Regions from separate parts of the Homo sapiens genome. Here region 2 is linked to region 1. A link means that fine-mapping ties the variant in region 1 to the expression of a gene that starts in the linked region. Tissue or cell type: sun-exposed skin. Region 1 holds a variant in brackets; the other region holds the start of a gene. All regions are shown on one strand. Distances are between the middles of the regions.

The links. PIP is the estimated chance that this variant, and not a neighbour inherited with it, causes the effect.
Region 2: it holds the start of GLI2, and the variant in region 1 is fine-mapped to the expression of GLI2 in sun-exposed skin (GTEx, PIP above 0.99). The same link has a PIP of 0.9 or more in esophagus mucosa and unexposed skin.

Annotation. Positions count from the first base shown.
Region 1 is chr2:120,910,155-120,915,298 of GRCh38, reverse strand. The region is part of intron 2 of GLI2 (GLI family zinc finger 2); the gene reads right to left. Among named protein-coding and RNA genes, the nearest start is that of GLI2, 180 kb to the right of the region's middle. RefSeq lists enhancers at 1-756, 3,048-3,991. The variant A/G (reference allele first, on the strand shown) is at 2,477.
Region 2 is chr2:120,733,488-120,738,631 of GRCh38, reverse strand. It overlaps GLI2 (GLI family zinc finger 2), which reads right to left and starts at 2,764. Exons shown (of 14, transcript NM_001374353.1): 1 at 2,347-2,764. LOC124906073 (a long non-coding RNA gene) reads right to left here. Exons shown (of 3, transcript XR_007087219.1): 3 at 3,782-4,590. LOC124907881 (a long non-coding RNA gene) reads left to right here and starts at 971. Exons shown (of 2, transcript XR_007087221.1): 1 at 971-2,071; 2 at 5,044-5,144. RefSeq lists enhancers at 1-152, 559-1,059, 1,060-1,560, 2,679-2,848, 3,488-4,135.

The DNA of each region.
Region 1 (5,144 bases):
CTCACGCAATCAGGCCTGCCCTGCAGACACAGCCTAGCAGGACCCGTGGCCTCTGCTGGGTCCGCCCACGCACACTGCCCACCCCAGGCTGAGGTGTTACTTGACAAATTAGCTGCCGAAAGAGAGAGTGTGCTGGGCTGGGGCCAGCACAGCCACTCCACACCAGGCACAGAGTTCTGAGACTGGTCTCCTGGTGAGGGCAGGTAGGGATGCAGAGGGACCTGCACATTCCAGGGTGAGGAGTGTGCTCCAGCCAACGCCACGGGAGAGGCCAGCCCCGTGCCATTTGGGTCTGGCCGCTCGGGAGCCAGGCAGTCATGGGATCTGTTCCCTGCAACAGTGGCCTTGAAGTGACAGGAGACAGGCCACAAGAGGCGGCATAGTGTCCTGTTGGACAGAGCTGAGGCTGCCGCCAGTGCCACAGCCAAGTCTGGCTTGATTGCTGACTCACCGAACCTTCCTGTGCCTCGGTGTCCTTATCTGTAAAATGAGGATAGGGACAGGACCCATGTCAGAGGGAGACTGTGAAGTGGAGAAGAGCTAGTGCAGGGCCAGGCACGCAGTAGGGCCCCGAAGGGTGCCGGTGTGGCCATCCCTACAGACCCCTCTGCTGGGCTCCTGCCCCTTTAGCAAGGGGTGGGAGACTGGGGTGAGCTCCAGAGGGACACCTGGGAGATCCCCGCCATCACAAGGAATGGGAGGGGCTGCCTGTCTGTCTGGGTAGACATGTAGAGTCCCACATTAGAGAATTTTAGGGCTGGAAGAAACAATAGGGCTGGTCAAGCTTGCTTAAGGTTGAAAACTCTGTCTTGGTCACAGAAGGTTTCTAAAAAAGTAGTGTGCAGCCTCCCCACTGCAAAATGCAATAGATTTGAAGCCCAGAGGACCATGGCTCCCAGGGACCCTGGCACCTTGCAGAATCCAATGCAGAAAGCAGGAATCCAGCCCAGGAGCTGGAGGAGACGGTGCCCAGGCCCTAGTGCTCCTTCCACCTGTCACAGGCCAGGGCTAGGCCAGGTGGCCTGGGATGGATTCAGGCTTTCCCCTAAAATCTTGCTGCCCCTTGACATACTCATTTGACAGTATACACTGGCGACCCCGTCAGCTGGCAGGGACCTTGTCGGCTAGCTATTGCAATGCTGACTGGTCCCCGGCAAGAAGCCCACTTGTCGCAGGTGATTCTCCCTTTCAGGAGGATGACCATGCCATTCCTCTGTCTGGTCCCCACGGGTCGTGAAGGTGTCACTTGCCATTCTGTGTACTTAACTAGCATCCAGCCCCTTCCCTGCAGAGCCCAACAAGAGGTTTCTTGATCTGGCTTATAGGTCCTGCCTTGCGTCCTGCCGAGAGCATCAAGTCCCAGCTTTGCACTCTGCCATAGCTCTTGAGACGACAGTAAGGCCACCACATTTGGTCTCCACCAGGCCCTGGTGATGGTTTCCCAGGCTGAGCCAAGGCACCTCTTTATTCCAGGCTGCATTCTGAGGCAGGGCCTGCCACAGACAATCAATGACCTTTAAAACCGGGCAGCGGAATCAGCCACCTGGACAAGCAAACGAGCACTGGGGCTGGACTTACTGTCTTTCTGCAATCAACAGGGGAATGACAAAATGCTCTCCATTCTTTCATCCAAGCAGGTCCCGTAAGGGCCACTTTCTGGGAGCCTCTTGTCAGTCCCAATAATTATGTTACTCAAAGGGATCCTTTACAATTCTCTCTACCTTGGACTAGAATCTTCCCTAGGTGTCCACTCATCCAATGCAGCCCTGGCCAACAGAAATACAATGTGGGCCACATATGTTATTGTAAATTTTCTAGGAGCCACATTTAAAAAAAACTAAAAAGAAACAGGTGATTATTTTAATAACACAATTTAATTGAACCAGTACGTCAAAAATACTATCACTTCAACATGGAACCAGTAAAAAAATTGTTAATGAGATGTGTTACATGCTTTTATTCCTACTACGTCTTCAAAACCTGGTACCTATCTTGCACTCACAGCACATCTCAATTAGGATAGCCACATTGCAAGCACTCAGCCACACACAGCTCGCGGCTACCCTACTGAACAGCTCAGGCCTAACTCGTTATCATTATTGACTTTCCACTGCTTCAGAATTCTAGTCTAGCTTAGTAAAAGTCCCATCAATACACAAAATATGGTGATGAGAATTCTCCCCAAACCTCAGTCCTTCCTCACCTTTGAATCTTAGCTTCCTACAGACTTCTATTTGGTCGCTTACATTTACTGATGAAAACACAGTTATTTTTCTTCCCTCCTTTCCTCCCTCCCTTCCATTCATTTAACTCACAAACGTTCCCAGAATCGTAGGAGGGTTACTTGCGATTCTGTGGGTGAGGCCGGTGCCCCGCCCAAGGGATTAAGTCAGCCTGTGCCTCTCTCCCCACCCTTCCACACCCTTGACCTCTCCGCGCAGAGCTGGTCGACAGCACCTCCCTTGTTCTGCCCTGG[A/G]TTGCTGCCCGCTGCGTTCTTGATAAGCTTGGAGTGTTCCCAGACACGGGAGTGGGTGTGTGGACTCCCGAGATCTTCGACAAATAAGAGGGTCCGCAGAAAGCAAAGCCCATGCCGGGGTCATGAGGGGCAGTGCGGCAGGACCGTGGAGAAACACCGGGCAAGCCGTGTTACACTTTCGGACGCCTGGCTCCCTGCCCGTGTGATTCTGGACCCAGTTAACTGAATGATGGTTGGAGCACATGCCATTCCCACCACCCTCCCCACTCTCCCCACCAACGACCACTGTGGCGCATGGAAACAGTATTTCTCTTTGCTGGGATACGGTGTCCACCAGCAGGACTGGAGGCCAGTCCATGAATCCGTGGGAAGAGCCTGCTCCCCTATTTTGTTGGTTCAGAAACTGAGACACAGAATATGTGGTCTCATGACCCAACCCTCCAGCCCTGAGCGGTGCCCAGAATCTTATTTCCTAGAATAAGACTGTAGAAGAAAGGGAGGAGGAAAACATGCCAAAGCCTTCCTGACATCAAAAAAAAAAAAAAAAACCTCTTGCAAAACAATATTTTGATGAGCTAAGCATGTGAATTAAAAGCAGACAGAGTCTACTTCTTTTTAAATAAACAGGGTTTAAGATCTAGGGGAAAACTCCCAAATACAATGTGTTTCGGGGCCGGAGAAACCAGAGCTGCCCTTCCACAAACCCAAGAGCAGCCTGGCCTGTGCACTCTCATCCGAGGCGTTTGTGGGCAAAGGCCCTGCTTTGTGGGTCCAGTCACACCTCAGTAGGGGGACCAGGAGGAGGGTCTGAGTGACTGACAGGTGGTCCCCAGGTCCTGCCATTGCCAGCAGAATGGAGTCAAGAGCCCCAGCCTGGCACTCAGGACCTCCAGATCCTGCCCCACAGACTCTCCCAGCCCCAGGGTCAAATGACAGCCTTGCAGACCCCATGCCTCCTAGGCTCCACCCTGCCTAGAAAGCCCCTCCCCACCACACCCCCTCATCCTCATCATGCCAACTCAGCCTGCCCTCAGCAACCCCAGTCCACACGAGCCTGCCTCCAGGAAGCTTCCTGGACCTTTCTTCTGCCACCCCCCTCCACCGCAGGCAGACGATACTCCCTCCACACCATTTCCTCTGAGTCAACGACCAGCCCAGCGAGTGGCATGGAGGAGGTGAGGAGTATGTGCCCAGTGAGTGAATGAATGAATACATGAATGAGTGAATCCTCCCACTATTGGAAAACAGAACCCGAGGATAACAAGGGTGGCCAGTAGCTACCGACTGTCAGTCTAAATTAATTTAGGACCGAGGAGAGAAAGCCATGCTGCTCGGGGCCGCAGTAGGAGACAGAGCAGTTTCTAGGAGTCAGCCACGCACTGGCCCTTCCTTGGAGACTGGAAACCGCAGTGGTTCTAACAGCCAGTGCACAGGGCTTCCTTCACACTGGAGCCTTCCTGAGCATGTTGCATTTGTTAACTCATTTCATCCTCATAGCAATTGATGAAGGTATTGTTACTATTATCTCCACTTTAGAGATGAGGAAACTGAGGCACAGGAGCGTTCAGTAACTTGCCCTGGTTCAGTCAAATGGCTAATCTGTGTCACAGCCAGACCTCATGCCCATTTCTCTGAAATTCCAGACATGGGTGGGGTAGGGTAGGGCGGTATGAGCTCTTCTTGGACCAGGAAGAAGAAATGAGGCCGGGGGAAGGCCCAGGTCCCAGTCTTTGCCCGACTCATCCCCTGTTCTCCTGGGTGCCCACTCCCCCTCAGGGCAGCCTGGGCCAGGCATTGGTGTAATAAGGGTCACAGGTGTGTGATGGAGGAGGGAGCAGTACTCTGTGACCCAGGCCCTGGTAAGGAGGTGGAGCACCAACAAACTCCAGGAAACACAAGGCCAGCCTTGGTATTTTCACTTCATTCGTGGTCTTTCCAAAAGGAAATGTAACCCCTTAAAACAGAATGGGTCTGCCATGCAGCGGCATCTAAGTGCTGCCCAGGTACCCAGCGAAGTCAGAGGCAAGTCCGGGAGGGACCCAGGGGAGGGGAGTTATCTGTTTCCCCAGCTGTGTTCCTGGTGGCTGCTAATAACCCCCATGTATCATTCTGCCTGGCTCCGAAAACATTCTGACTGGCGTTAAAAATGGGCCCCTCTTCTGCCCGTGGCTTGGCGCCCCTGCAACACGTGTGGGATGCTGGTTGTTAGCATGCTGCTTGTGTAATTAGGGCGGCGAGGATGGCAAAGGGCCCACCCCGGGTCCCCAAGAGTGATTGCAGTTCAGAAAAAGCACCCACTTGGTTCTGCGCTGATTAATGATGGACCCCGCTAATAGCCCTGCTTAACACAGGAGTTTGTCAAGATTAAGTAATTGCCTGAAACAAAAAGTGTATTATCTTTAAGGCCCCACTGATGAATGACTGCTGCTAGGAAATGGGGTGATGGATGTCTGTGACTCCCTGCCACCATCCCTCCCCCATTTGCATAAATTAAAATGCATCCCTTGATTAGGCAAGAAGCCCTGACAGACCGTGCCAAGGGACCAGGTGGCTGAGGGCCCTGCTGTCACCCCTGGCTCAGGCCTGCTGACCACCGGGAGGCCCCAAACGGCTTGTTAGCATTATAAGTTGTGGGATGGACATAGGCCTCATGGGCAGGGGTGGACCA
Region 2 (5,144 bases), 180 kb after region 1:
CCACAGTCTCTCACTCAGATGCTAGCCCAACTGAAGGCTGGTTCACCTGAGGGATACCTCCTGGGCAGCTGGGCTCTTTCAAATGCAGGATCTTCCCTGTATTAGCTTAAATCCCCTAAAATCACGAAACAATTTCGTGAAACTGGCATATTTCTCGAAGCAGAGGAGAAAATAAAACCACCCTAAATCTTACCAAATATAATTAACTTTAAAACTCATCAGACAAGCGACAACTTTCCATATGGCTGGGCTTGAGTGGAATTCGAATCCCAGGGAAAAACATCTCCACAATTTCCTGTAACCCTCAAGAGAGAAGCAGCAAGTCTAGGAAAACAAAAGCAAGAACGATGAAGAAAGAGGCACAAGAAGCATAGTCAAAAAGAAGAGAAGGCCCCTGATGGATCTGGATTCCACATTCTAGAATGACTGCCCCAGGACAGACCAGAAGCTGGGAAAAGCCTAAATAAAGAGCCTCCAAACTCAAAGCAGCCAGGCATAGCCAAGGTGCCCCCCGTCCCTGTGGAGTCAGGCCCAGGTAGCCACACCGTGAGCTTCCCCCTAAACAAGCAACTGCAAAGCCGTTCCCAGGCCCCAGGGAGGGCCTGTCCCCAGACACAGGGAAACCCAGCCAAGGGAACTCCCAGCAAGGTAAGGAAATGGGCGGAGAGAAAGCTGGCAGGTGAGGTGGCTGGAACAAACTGGTCTCATCAGGGAGGCCTGTGACAAACCCGCCTATTCCTCCGCTTTCCCCGCTGTATATTTTGGATTTCACAGTTTATTTACTTTACTTTTTGGCACCGAGCCCCCTGAGCATGCCAATACAATATTTGTTTAAACACTATTTTATGCTGCTTGCGAGGGAAACGTTTACTTTCAAATTCTCCTACATCCCCCAGAGCCTCGTCTGCAAACAGCCTATGAGCGTTTTACAACTGCTCCCTTTATCTGAAGCTGTCGGGATTAAACCTTCACACGCCCGGCAAGAGCGGCGGAGAGGGGGCCCGGGACACCGCTGCGGCCACCGAGCTGCAAAGCCCGTGCCAGAGGTCGCGCACCGAGCGGGATGCCCGGGCTGGGGGACAGAGGGACGCCTACAAGACTCCCAGGGCGCGGGACCAGACAGTAGGGACAGGTCTACTTTTCCAGCTGGGATCAACTCTAGGAGCCACAGAACAATTACACAAAAGAGAAGGTAGTGGAAAGAGGCACCCTCGGGGGGGCTCGAGGTCCCCGAGAGCCTCAGCGACCGATCACCCAGGGTGAGGCGCACGGGCTCCATCCCCAGCTCCCCGCGCGGTAAAAGTCGGGTTTCCTAGGAAATGACAGCAGTTACCGCCGGGCTGAAAAGGCGCCGAGCTGGGTGGACTCCCAGCTCTCCAGCGCGGCGGGCGCGCTCACACTCACACACGCAAGCACACGCTCCCTCCCAGCTCCCCGCCCCCGCCCCGTCCGGGGAAAAGACTCCCCTCTCTAAACCCTTAATAGGATTGGCGCCCAACTCTCTCCGCGCCTCTCCCCATCCATCACATACAGATCAAGTTGCAGTAGTGGATTTTTCAAATTCCTCAGCAAATATACTTGTTGAGAGATTGTCGGGGGTGGGGAGAGACGATGAGTAGGGGGGCAGGGATGAAAGTGAGGTGGAAGGGGGAACCGGAGGACCCGGCAAAGGATTACGTGCGGATCCCTTTGGGAAGTCAAGCGGATCTCAGGGCCGAGGGCAGGAGAGGAGGAGAAGAGAGGCAAAGAGGGGGGGCCGAGGAGGAGAGCCCAGCAGAGGGGGAGGGGGCGGCCGGGCCGGGCGAGGGGGAGGAAGGATTGAGGAAGGAAGAAAGAAAGGCAGGGCTCCGGGACGCGCAGCGCGGAGAAGTGGAGTTCGAAGTTCTCAAGTGGCTGGCTGCAGCCCCTCCGCGCTCAGTACGCCCGCAGACACGCTCCCATGCCCACCTACGGCAGCTTCGGAGCATCCCAGCCTCCGATCCCACCCTCCACCCCCTGAAAAAACAGACCCCCGCCGGCGCGCGGAGGCCGGCTCGCTGTGCACCCCGAGAAGAGTGGTGCTCTCCCCCAGGTAGGGAGAGGGTGCAACATCGACCTCTGGCCACGAGCTCCAAGCCCCAGGACTCTCCTTACGTCCCCGCCCTGCTCGTCCAGAGCCCCAGGCGGGGTCGCGCCTACTAGCCTCTAGTCCCCCGAAGCCCAGGGCCCCGATCCCAAGGCCTAGGCGCCGGTACCCGGCCGAGGGACCCCCCGAGACGGCGCAGCATCCCAGTCGGCCCGCGCTTGGCCGAGGTGGGAGGCGCTTCGTCACGAAAAGCAAGCAAAAGAAGGCCAATGCAACTTTACCGAGAGAGACAAAAGTTTGCCTCTAGCACGCAGGTGGCCTCTCGGGCGCCGGGCGGTGGCTGTGGGCCCCCATCCCACCTTGGCTGGCGCGGCGACCCTCGGCTGGCTGCCTTGTGCCGGGGCTCCAGCCAGCCGGGGCGGGGCGGGCCAGGCAAGAGAGGGGACCGAGAGGCGGGCGGGCGCCGCGCAGCCCCTACCGCCGGCGAGCAGGCGGCTCCCCGAGGCTGCGGCGCGCCGCGCGGCCCAAGCTCTTTCCTCCGGCTCCTCCTGCGGCTCCTGGCCTTCCTCCGCGTTCGCAGTCGCAGCCGCCGCCGCCGCCCGCTCCTCCTCGAAGTCTCATTGATGGGAGTTTGAAAAAAAGTCCGCGGAGCCGTGCTGCCTCGGCTGGCAAGCGCCGGCACTTCTGCAATCCATCAGCGCCGCCGGACTGCGCAGCGCCCCCGCGCGCACGGTGCGGGCACACCCGGGCCCCAAGAACCCGCCAGCCAGCCCGCCCGCTCCCTGCCGGGGGACGCAGGGGGACCCGAACGCCGCCGGGGCGGGGGGAGGGGAAAGGGGGAGCACAGGGACTCTCCCCACCCAGCACCAAGGAAAGAAAACGCACCTACAAGGAAAGTTCGAGAAAGGAACCAAAGGACGCGCCAATCTCCGACACTTTTTTTAGACGACTAGGTGTGGGGGGGGGGGTTGGGGGTGTCGCTAACTCAAGTCAGATGAGCTCCGGAGCTGAGGGGCAAGGGCTGCTCTGTTTTCAATCTCTGAAATCCCCCCGCCCTCCCCACCTCCCACTTCCCTCCTCGGGGAGATGCCTGGGTCGCTGTTCCCAGGGCGCCCGCTTCTCTGGACGCCCGCGCGGAAGCCGGGGACGCCAGAGAAGGGACGCGGGGGCTGGGTCCACGCGGACCCTCTTCCCGCGGGCAGCGAGCGCAGGTGCCGGGGGTCCTGAGGCGTCCCCCGCCGCCGCTAGCCCTCGTCGCCATCTGAGCACACGCTGGCGAGAAACGAAGCAGCCTTCTAGGTTTGGTGCATGTGGCTTGCAGGGTGGGTTTTTGTTTTGTTGTGTTGTGTGTTTTAGAGACTCCACTCGAGCCGCTGAAGCCAGATGGAAGTAATCAGAACCCAACAACAACAGAGAAAGAAGGAAGAAAAAACTCCTCATTGAATTTTCTAGCCAAAGTGTATATGGGGCTGTGTGTGAAAGAACTTGCTTAAGCAAGCTCAGTGAGGAGCCCTGGGCCCTCAAGCCACACCACAGCCCGGAACTGGGCCGCCAGGCTTGGAGGAGAATTGGGGGCAGCTGGCTAAAGTGTCCTCCCCACACCCCCGGGCCTGCCACCCTCTCCAGGGCCCCTGGGCCTCACCCGAAGAGGGTCTTGGGGGGAATTTCTGGTTTTATTCTTCCTAACGTTTGTAGAACACTCTACCAAGTGCCAGGTGATGTTATATTTTCTTTGTATTATTGGACTTTCACAGCTCTGTAAGGAAGGTTCTCTTCTCGTGTTTTTACAGGTGGGAAGTCTGATGCTTTAAAAAGTTAAGTAACTAGTCTAAGGTCAGAGCACTCTGCCATCCTCCCAGAGCTTCGGGTGGTTGTACTGTAAGTTCAGTTAAATTTGCCCTGTTGGGCCGGGCGCGGTGGCTCACGCTTGTAATCCTAGCACTTTGGGAGGCCGAGGCACGGGGATCACCTGAGGTCAGGAGTTCAAGACCAGCCTGGCCAACATGGTGAAACCCCGTCTCTACTAAAAATACAAAAAATTAGCCAGGGATAGTAGCGCGCGCCTGTAATCCCGGCTACTTGGGAGACTGAGGCTGGAGAATCTCTCAAACCCCTTGGGAGATGGAGGTTGCAGTGAGCCATGATGGCGCCACTGCACTCCAGCCTGGGTGATGGAGCGAGACTCTGTCTCAAAAAAATAAATTAATTAAATTAAATTTTTAAAAAATTGCCCTGTTGAGGTGGGTGGAAGTGTCTCTCCCTTCAGCCCCTGTTCCTAAAATTGCATTTTATTTGAAATGCAAGGGACCCAATGCTACCCTCCCTGAGGGGATGTGACCTACACAGGCCCATTTCACCGGTGCAACCCTTTTTGTGGGTGGCTCTCTCCATATACCTTTTATCCTCTGCTAACTTTATTCTTTTACTTTTTAATCAAAGAGGATGCATTAGAACTTCATTCCTTAAGATCCTCCTTCCTCCTCCTGACATTCACTTATATGATGGAGCAACAATTTCTTCTTGACCTAGAGAAAAAAATATGCAGAAAAATATTAGAACAATTTGATGCTAATTTTGTTTGGGGGGAAAAGGTCGGCAGCATTTTTAAAAAGCGAAACTTGCATAAGCCAATGATTTAAAGAGAAGTTTGAAAGGGGCTTTTTCTTTAAAGATGATCAGATTCACCATTCCTCCGTGCTATTTGTTTAAATTCCTGCTGAGCTTTCAGAACACAGACTCTAAGGAGACAGAAAAAGTAAACTCTCCCTCCCCTCCTTGGCCATATTTTAATGACCCTATTCATATCTGCCCCATGACATGTAGGGAATCATTTCTCATTGCTGGAATATTAGCCGCGTTGGCTGATTACTTCATTATGAGCTTGTCTCTGTTGATTTCCTTGTGTTGTAAAGTTTGTGAAGAAGTTTAAACAAATCAATGTTTTAGGATATTTCCTTCTTCTCTGTTTTTCTTCTCAGACCAGCTCAACTCCTGCTGGACTCCAGGCACTCACATAACCTTTCCCGGCTTATTTTGGCAAGAAGATGGCTGTCGAGATGAAGACAGAATGTTTTTTGGT